Homo sapiens: one gene and its partner. The protein of the gene in region 2 interacts with the protein of the main gene of each other region in a pairwise test. Each region holds a gene or a part of one and is shown on either strand. Other genes may lie near its edges.

Region 1 (3,500 bases), on a different chromosome or scaffold from region 2:
CACCCATTCCCTCATCCCAGCGACTCCCCTCACCTGTGAAGGTTTGGCGACAACCCCCAGGCTGCTCCCATGGTAGATGAAGACTTTCCCATCACCATCAAAGGGGGCACCCACTGCAATATCTGCAGGGCACAGGGAAAAGGCAGTCACGCTGGCTGGGGGCCTTGCAGACAAGATCCAGGCCTCAACTCCCCCCAGTCACTCAGGTATGTTTTCTATTTTATTGAGAGGCTACAAAATCCCAGGCACTCTACATACATCATCTTTAATCCTCTTGGCCACTCCCTGCAGATATTACTAACGCAAAAAGGTTAGGAACTTGCCAAGGTCAGAAAGCTGGTAAATGGTACAGCTCAGACATAAGCTCAGGGACCCTCTCTCCCTGAGTCCTCAGAAGACCACACCCTGACCTCTGAGGGGCTTCCCCATCCCTCCTGTGGCCCCTCCCTCCCTGAGCCTTTCCAGTTCCCCGTCACACCTGGAAAGCCATCTTGGTTGAGGTCCCCCAGGACAGCCAGGCTGATCCCGAACATGGAGTCAGGGGAGCCGCAGAGCCGGAGAGGGGAGATCCCAGCCCAGTGACCCCCCTGGTTCAAGTACACATACACAGCACCCCCCAGCTCTTCTTGGCGCTCAAAGAAGTAGGGGGCACCCACTATCAGGTCTGGCCAGCTATGGAGAGAGGGAAACATTCAGTGTGGGTCCTCCCTGGCCAGAGGAGCCAGCAGGAGGCTAAGTGGCCTCAGCCAGACTGGGGCTACTAGACCCAGCCTCCCTCAGGTGGCACGGCCCTCTACCCACTCACCCATCACTGTTGAGGTCAGCCACAGCCAGTGAGTAGCCAAAGCCGGAGGTCAGGCGCTCCCCAGACAGCATAACCTCGGGCACCAGGCGACTGGCGCTGTCCTTGCGCAGGATGACCACAGCACCCTTGTGGTTGGCGCGGGGGGCTCCAGCCACAAAGCTCAGCTCTTCTGCACGCACCAGACCTTTCCCCGAGTCAATAGAGAAGCCTGGGGGAAGGGTGACTTACCCCTAAGTCTTCACCCCAAGACTCAGAAGCTGGGGTGTGTCACAGCTCCCCCAGCCCCTGCCCCCTCCCTACAGGTTAAGAGCCAAGTCACAGCTCCCCTGCACCCTGCCCCCTCCCCTAGGTTAAGAGCCAAAAGATAGGTCCCCCCAAGTCATCAGCACCACAGCTGGATAGCTCTTCCTCCCCACAGGGCCTGGCAGCCTCCCACACCCACCAGGCCCAGAGACAAGCTTGGCACAAAAAGTGCAGTGAGGTCAGCCTCAGGGACTGGGCAAGAGAGAGAAAGGTGATGGCTGAGAAGGCCAGGAGCCCAGGTAGGAGGCTGAGCACAGTGGCCTCACCCTGCCCACACCCAGGGAGCTAGAAGAGCTAGAGGTCCCTCTCAGGCCCGAATCCCACCCAGTGCACCTCTTTCCCCCAACTCCCTCATCCTGGCAGGGAGGGGAAGTCTTCACATGGATGAGGGGGAGACAAGGGGGAGTGAGAGAGCGCCTGCTTCACCCAAACATCTCCCAGGCCTGGTTTCCTCCTCCTCTGCAGAGGAATGCAGATGAGACAACGAGAGGGACTTACCAACAACATTAGCCCTTTCTTCAATATGTGCCCACCATCCATCCCCTCAGGGAAAGTCCCCCTAGAAGACAGGACTGTCCTTCCCAAAATATCCTCAGCCCTGGCCCTCTCATTCCACCTGAATCTTCCTCCATGGAGACCCCTGGCTCACAGCCCCAGAGGCCACCACCCTGGGGGCCTCCTCCTCTTAGGCCTGATCATTGGACCCAGCTCTTCTCTGCAATTTGGGCCCAATGTATGTCTCCCTGGGTGTGTGTTGGGGGAGGAGGAGATTATAAGGCACCAAAGGTCGAGTTCCCTGGGGAAGGAGGGGAGGCTGGGCCATGCCCCTAGAGTCCAGGAGGTGGGAGCTTACAAACCTAAGTAGCTATTGAGGGCCAAGTCTCCGGCTGGTCCTGGGAGCCGGTCAGCAGGGTCCAAAGTTTTATACACCAGCTGGTCGGGGTCTGAGCTATCAATGTTGGTCACAAAAAGCAACCCTGTGGGGGGTGGGGTGAGACACCAGGGAGGGGACATCCAGAGTAGGGGCCACAGAGTAGGGAGACAGAGCCACAGAAAGGCCAGAAAATGGTGGAAGAAGAAGAGGTGGAGAGAGAAAAAGAGACCAGAGAGATCACAGCCAGAGACAGAAAGACAGAGAGAGACAAGGTGAGAGACAGAAACAGAGACAGAAGGATGGGAGCATGGAGAGAGAGGACAAGAGAGAGGAGCAGAGGGTTAGAGCAGTTCTGGGCCGGGGAGAGGTCCCTACCAAAGTAGCTGTTGGCAGGGACCGGGATGAGGCGGGGGTCCTGCTCCTTCTCTCCCCCCGCCTCGTAGGGACCGTCGTCCAGGTGTGCCAGGTCCGCTGAGCCCTGTGCACAGAGCTCCACCCTGGCCGTGCCTGCAAGGACAGACCTGTTAGTGCCCAGGGCAGGGCGCAAGGAACACCCCTCAGGCCGGACACTGAGTTAGACAGGCACACGGGGAAGCCCTGCCTCTTCTTTCTAGCCCTCTCCCCACCCTGTCCCCAACCCAGGCTTCCTGGGGTCCCCCAGATGTGGCATCACACTCACCGAGTGTCAGCTCAGCCAGCAGCAGCGTGCGGAGACGGGAATGGCAGTGATGAGGTGTGGGCTAGTGTGTTGGAGCATGCAGGCCCCAGCTGCAGGCCCAGCGTGCACTTGGGGCCCATGCCAGCATGTTGAGGAACACTTGGCCGTGCGAGGGAAAGGAGGCACCCCCCATTCATGTGTGCACTAGCTCAATGGGGTGGAAGGCATGGCAGTGCCCTGGGGCCATACAGCAGTGCACATGTGGTCATGCTTGGCCATGTGCCATCCCCAACCCTGTCTCTGAGGTAAGAGGAGGTTTTGGTCCCCTTCTCCCCTTCCCGAGGAGTGACTCACCCTTCCAATTATAGGTTCCTGGGGCCCCAAAGAGGAGGTAGTGGCTATCAGGGGAGAAGGCGGCAGCTGTGCCCTGCTGGCAGAACCCAAATTGTTCATGGCCTTGGGGGCGTCCCTCACAGAACTTCCATTCCCCACCATCCAACTCATCCCGGATGGCCAGGTCCTGGCTGAGCACAAAGCAGCGACCAATCATATCCCGCGTCTCCAGGATCTGGTCCACTCGCTGCCTTGCCTCATATCGGTGTGCACAGGTCTGGGGGAGGAAGGGATGGGGATCATTTCACTCTGTGGGCCAGGGACCTGCTTGAGGCATGCTGCCCATATGCAGAGATTTGGCAGATACTGATACATGTGTGCTCACATGCACATGCACATGCACACATACACACACACCCCTATGCCGGCACCACTCAAGCACCATTACCCTGCCAGTGTTACACAGGTCCATGCATAACCCAGCAACCTGTCTGCACCCACTTCCTTGCCCTCAAATGGAGATCTCC
Region 2 (4,372 bases):
GACCGGGCCTTGCTCTGTTACCCAAGCTGGAGTGCAGTGGCAGGATCATAGCTCACTGCAGCCTTGAACTTCTGGGCTCAAGCAATCCTCCCACATCAGCCTCCCAAGTACCTAGGACTGCAGATGCTTACCACCATGCCCAGCTAATTTTTCATGAATTTTTAATTATTGAAATTCAGACATCTAAGAAGATGCTGAGGACTGTCTCCATATTCCTGAAATTACGACTCACCTATTCACAAACCAGCCCTTCTAGTGGAATTAAAATATTATTTGATTTTGAATACCCTACTCTAAGGTAGGCACATTGCCCTGCAATTTATTATTTATGAGGTTTTTAATTATGGAATTGTTCAAATATTCACAAAAGTAGAGAGACTACAATGAACTCCAATGTAGCCATCACTCAGGCCCAACTGTTATCAGCACAGTCCAATCATGTTTTATCTTCCCTTCTCTGACCCCCAACCCATCCCCAGTCCTTATCTAAAATCAAATCTCAAACACCATATCTTTGGGAGCCTATTTATTTAGTTAGTTAGTTTTCAGACAGAGTTTCTTTCTTGTTGCCCAAGCTGGAGTACAATAGTGTAGTCTCGGCTCACAGCAATCTCCCCCTCCTTGGTTCAAGCAATTCTCCTGCCTCAGTCTCCCAAGAAGCTGGGATTATAGGCACCTGCCACCACATCCAGCTAATTCTTTTGTGTTTTTAGCAAAGACAGGGTTTCACCATGTTGGCCAGGCTGGTCTCGAACTCCTGACCTCAGGTGATCCGCCTGCCTCGGCCTCCCAAAGTGCTGGGATTACAGGCATGAGCCACCACGCCTGGCCGGCAGCCTATTTAAATGTCATCCTCAACATAGTCAATCCTTGGGCCATTTTTTCTTACAGTAAAATTTTGTCTCTTTCTTTTAATGCAGTTTCTACGTGGAATTTGGACACTTTGGCCTTCCAGGAACTGAAGTCCGAGCTAACTGAAGTTCCTGCTTCCCGAATTTTGAAGGAGAGCCCATCTGGCTATCTCAGGAGTGGAGAGGGAGACACCGGTATGAAGTTAAGTTTCTTCCCTTTTGTGCCCACGTGGTCTTTATTCATGTCTAGTGCTGTGTTCAGAGAATCAGTATAGGGTAAATGCCCACCCAAGGGGGAAATTAACTTCCCTGGGAGCAGAGGGAGGGGAGGAGAAGAGGAACAGAACTCTCTCTCTCTCTCTGTTCCCTTGTCAGAGCAGGTCTGCAGGAGTCAGCCTTTCCCTAACAAAGCCCTCTATCCTATCACCCACACTTGGGAGGCTGGGCTGGGCTGCACAGGGCAAGATGAGAGATGTGTTGATTTCATCCACTTGATTGTCATGTAGAATTAGATATACTTGAGAAGTTACATTTTTCAGTAGCGCCTTCATATCTTTATTTTAGGGACAGGTATACACCAAGCACCATCTCAGCCACAATCTGTTACTAACAGTATGTTTTCTGAACTTTGGCCACTTAGGAAAAGTACAGTTTGGCTCTCTCCAAAGTGTTCCCTGAAAGTCCAACTTTATGACTAATACTGTGATTTCCAGAAACTTTGACTATCCATGTTATTGACAATGATTACTAGCACTGAAGGGCATGCATGCAAGTAGGGGTTATGAAATATTTAAAACACGGTTCTCTAAGATATGAGCAGCAAAGTGTTTCTACCTTCTATGAGGGAACCGAAGGTGCCATTAAAAGTAGAGAAATCTGGACCAGGCATGGTGGCTCATGCCTGTAATCCCAGCACTTTGGGAGGCTGAGGCGGGCGGATCACTTGAGGTCAGGAGTTCAAGACCAGCCTGGCCAACATGGTGAAACACTGTCTCTACTAAAAATACAAAAATTAGCCAGGCATGGTGGCAGTCATCTGTAATCCCAGCTACTTGGGAGGCTGAGGCAGGAAAATTGCTTGAACCCAGGAGGCAGAGGTTGCAGTGAGCCGAGATCACACCACTGCCCTCCAGCCTGGGCGACAGAGTGAGACTCTGTCTCAAAAAAAAAAAAAATACAGACATCTGTTGTGATTCTGGTAACTCTAAATTTTCAACCGTCTCTTCACTACATTTAAAAAATTATTTTCTAAACCAAATTAGCCAGGTGTGGTAGCAGGCACCTGTAGTCCCAGCAACTCAGGAGGCTGAGATGGGAGGGGTGCTTGAGCCTGGAAGGTCGAGGCTGCAGTGCACTGTGATTGCACCACTGCACTCCAGCCTAGGTAACAGTGCAAGACCCTGTCTCAAAAAATAATTATTTTCATGTTTATTATATTAAAATGATGTATGAAATATGTGACTCATCAGGGCTTGAAAAACTTTGTTGTATGGAGATTATTCTTATGAGTTGATTTTTCTCTCTCCTACCTTATAGTAATGAAATAAACCAGGCATGAAAGTCACAATAAGTAATACAATGAACACCCATGGGTCCCTGCCCAGCTTAAGTAGAATATTACAAATGCAGTTGAAGCCCTCTGTGCAACTTTCATCCTTACAACTGATACTGAGTGAATTGTACTTTAAATATTTTATAGCTCCCACTCCCATGCATGCCCCTCAGTGATAGCAATAATTGTCAATAACATGAAACACAGATTGATCATATAGCATTTACCATATATTTACTCTATACCAAGCACTTAACATATATAATTACATTTAAAATTTACAACAGCCCTACTACCCAAAACACTATTAGTATCCCCTTTTACAAATGCGATAACTGAGGCGTAGAGAGCTAAGTAACTTACTGAAAGTCACACAGCCAGCGGGTGGTAGAGCCTAGCTTTAAACCCAGACGATTTGTCTCCAGGGCTGTCACATCTACTGGCTCTGCCAAGCTTCCGCATGATCATTGTCTGTGTTTGGAAAGATTATGGATTAAGTGGTGCTTCGTTTTCTTTTCTGAATTTACCAGGATGTGGAGAACTAGTTTGGGTAGGAGAGCCTCTCACGCTGAGAACAGCAGAAACAATTACTGGCAAGTATGGTGTGTGGATGCGAGACCCCAAGCCCACCTACCCCTACACCCAGGAGACCACGTGGAGAATCGACACAGTTGGCACGGATGTCCGCCAGGTTTTTGAGTATGACCTCATCAGCCAGTTTATGCAGGGCTACCCTTCTAAGGTTCACATACTGCCTAGGCCACTGGAAAGCACGGGTGCTGTGGTGTACTCGGGGAGCCTCTATTTCCAGGGCGCTGAGTCCAGAACTGTCATAAGATATGAGCTGAATACCGAGACAGTGAAGGCTGAGAAGGAAATCCCTGGAGCTGGCTACCACGGACAGTTCCCGTATTCTTGGGGTGGCTACACGGACATTGACTTGGCTGTGGATGAAGCAGGCCTCTGGGTCATTTACAGCACCGATGAGGCCAAAGGTGCCATTGTCCTCTCCAAACTGAACCCAGAGAATCTGGAACTCGAACAAACCTGGGAGACAAACATCCGTAAGCAGTCAGTCGCCAATGCCTTCATCATCTGTGGCACCTTGTACACCGTCAGCAGCTACACCTCAGCAGATGCTACCGTCAACTTTGCTTATGACACAGGCACAGGTATCAGCAAGACCCTGACCATCCCATTCAAGAACCGCTATAAGTACAGCAGCATGATTGACTACAACCCCCTGGAGAAGAAGCTCTTTGCCTGGGACAACTTGAACATGGTCACTTATGACATCAAGCTCTCCAAGATGTGAAAAGCCTCCAAGCTGTACAGGCAATGGCAGAAGGAGATGCTCAGGGCTCCTGGGGGGAGCAGGCTGAAGGGAGAGCCAGCCAGCCAGGGCCCAGGCAGCTTTGACTGCTTTCCAAGTTTTCATTAATCCAGAAGGATGAACATGGTCACCATCTAACTATTCAGGAATTGTAGTCTGAGGGCGTAGACAATTTCATATAATAAATATCCTTTATCTTCTGTCAGCATTTATGGGATGTTTAATGACATAGTTCAAGTTTTCTTGTGATTTGGGGCAAAAGCTGTAAGGCATAATAGTTTCTTCCTGAAAACCATTGCTCTTGCATGTTACATGGTTACCACAAGCCACAATAAAAAGCATAACTTCTAAAGGAAGCAGAATAGCTCCTCTGGCCAGCATCGAATATAAGTAAGATGCATTTACTACAGTTGGCTTCTAATGCTTCAGATAGAATACAGTTGGGTCTCACATAACCCTTTACATTGTGAAATAAAATTTTCTTACCCAACGTTCTCTTCCTTGAACTTTGTGGGAATCTTTGCTTAAGAGAAGGATATAGATTCCAACCATCAGGTAATTCCTTCAGGTTGGGAGATGTGATTGCAGGATGTTAAAGGTGGTGTGTGTGTGTGTGTGTGTGTGTGTAACTGAGAG

Evidence for each region. Proteins that work in one complex are often made in the same cells at the same time.
Region 1: the proteins of MYOC (region 2) and ITGA7 interact in a two-hybrid assay, tested with the Homo sapiens proteins (one study listed by BioGRID).

What each region holds. Positions count from the first base shown.
Region 1 is NC_000012.12:55,697,905-55,701,404, forward strand, and holds part of ITGA7 (integrin alpha-7 isoform 2 precursor), read right to left. Parts: coding exon of another isoform or gene 3,475-3,500; exon of another isoform or gene 3,446-3,474; coding exon of another isoform or gene 3,422-3,445; intron 3,251-3,421; coding exon 2,995-3,250; intron 2,983-2,994; exon of another isoform or gene 2,662-2,982; intron 2,490-2,661; coding exon of another isoform or gene 2,358-2,489; exon of another isoform or gene 2,123-2,357; coding exon of another isoform or gene 2,086-2,122; coding exon 1,966-2,085; intron 1,014-1,965; coding exon 806-1,013; intron 673-805; coding exon 479-672; intron 123-478; coding exon 34-122; intron 1-33. UniProt on the Homo sapiens protein: Integrin alpha-7/beta-1 is the primary laminin receptor on skeletal myoblasts and adult myofibers.
Region 2 is NC_000001.11:171,635,271-171,639,642, reverse strand, and holds the end of MYOC (myocilin precursor), read left to right. Parts: intron 1-920; coding exon 921-1,046; intron 1,047-2,933; coding exon 2,934-3,718; 3' UTR 3,719-4,226; downstream 4,227-4,372. UniProt on the Homo sapiens protein: Secreted glycoprotein regulating the activation of different signaling pathways in adjacent cells to control different processes including cell adhesion, cell-matrix adhesion, cytoskeleton organization and cell migration.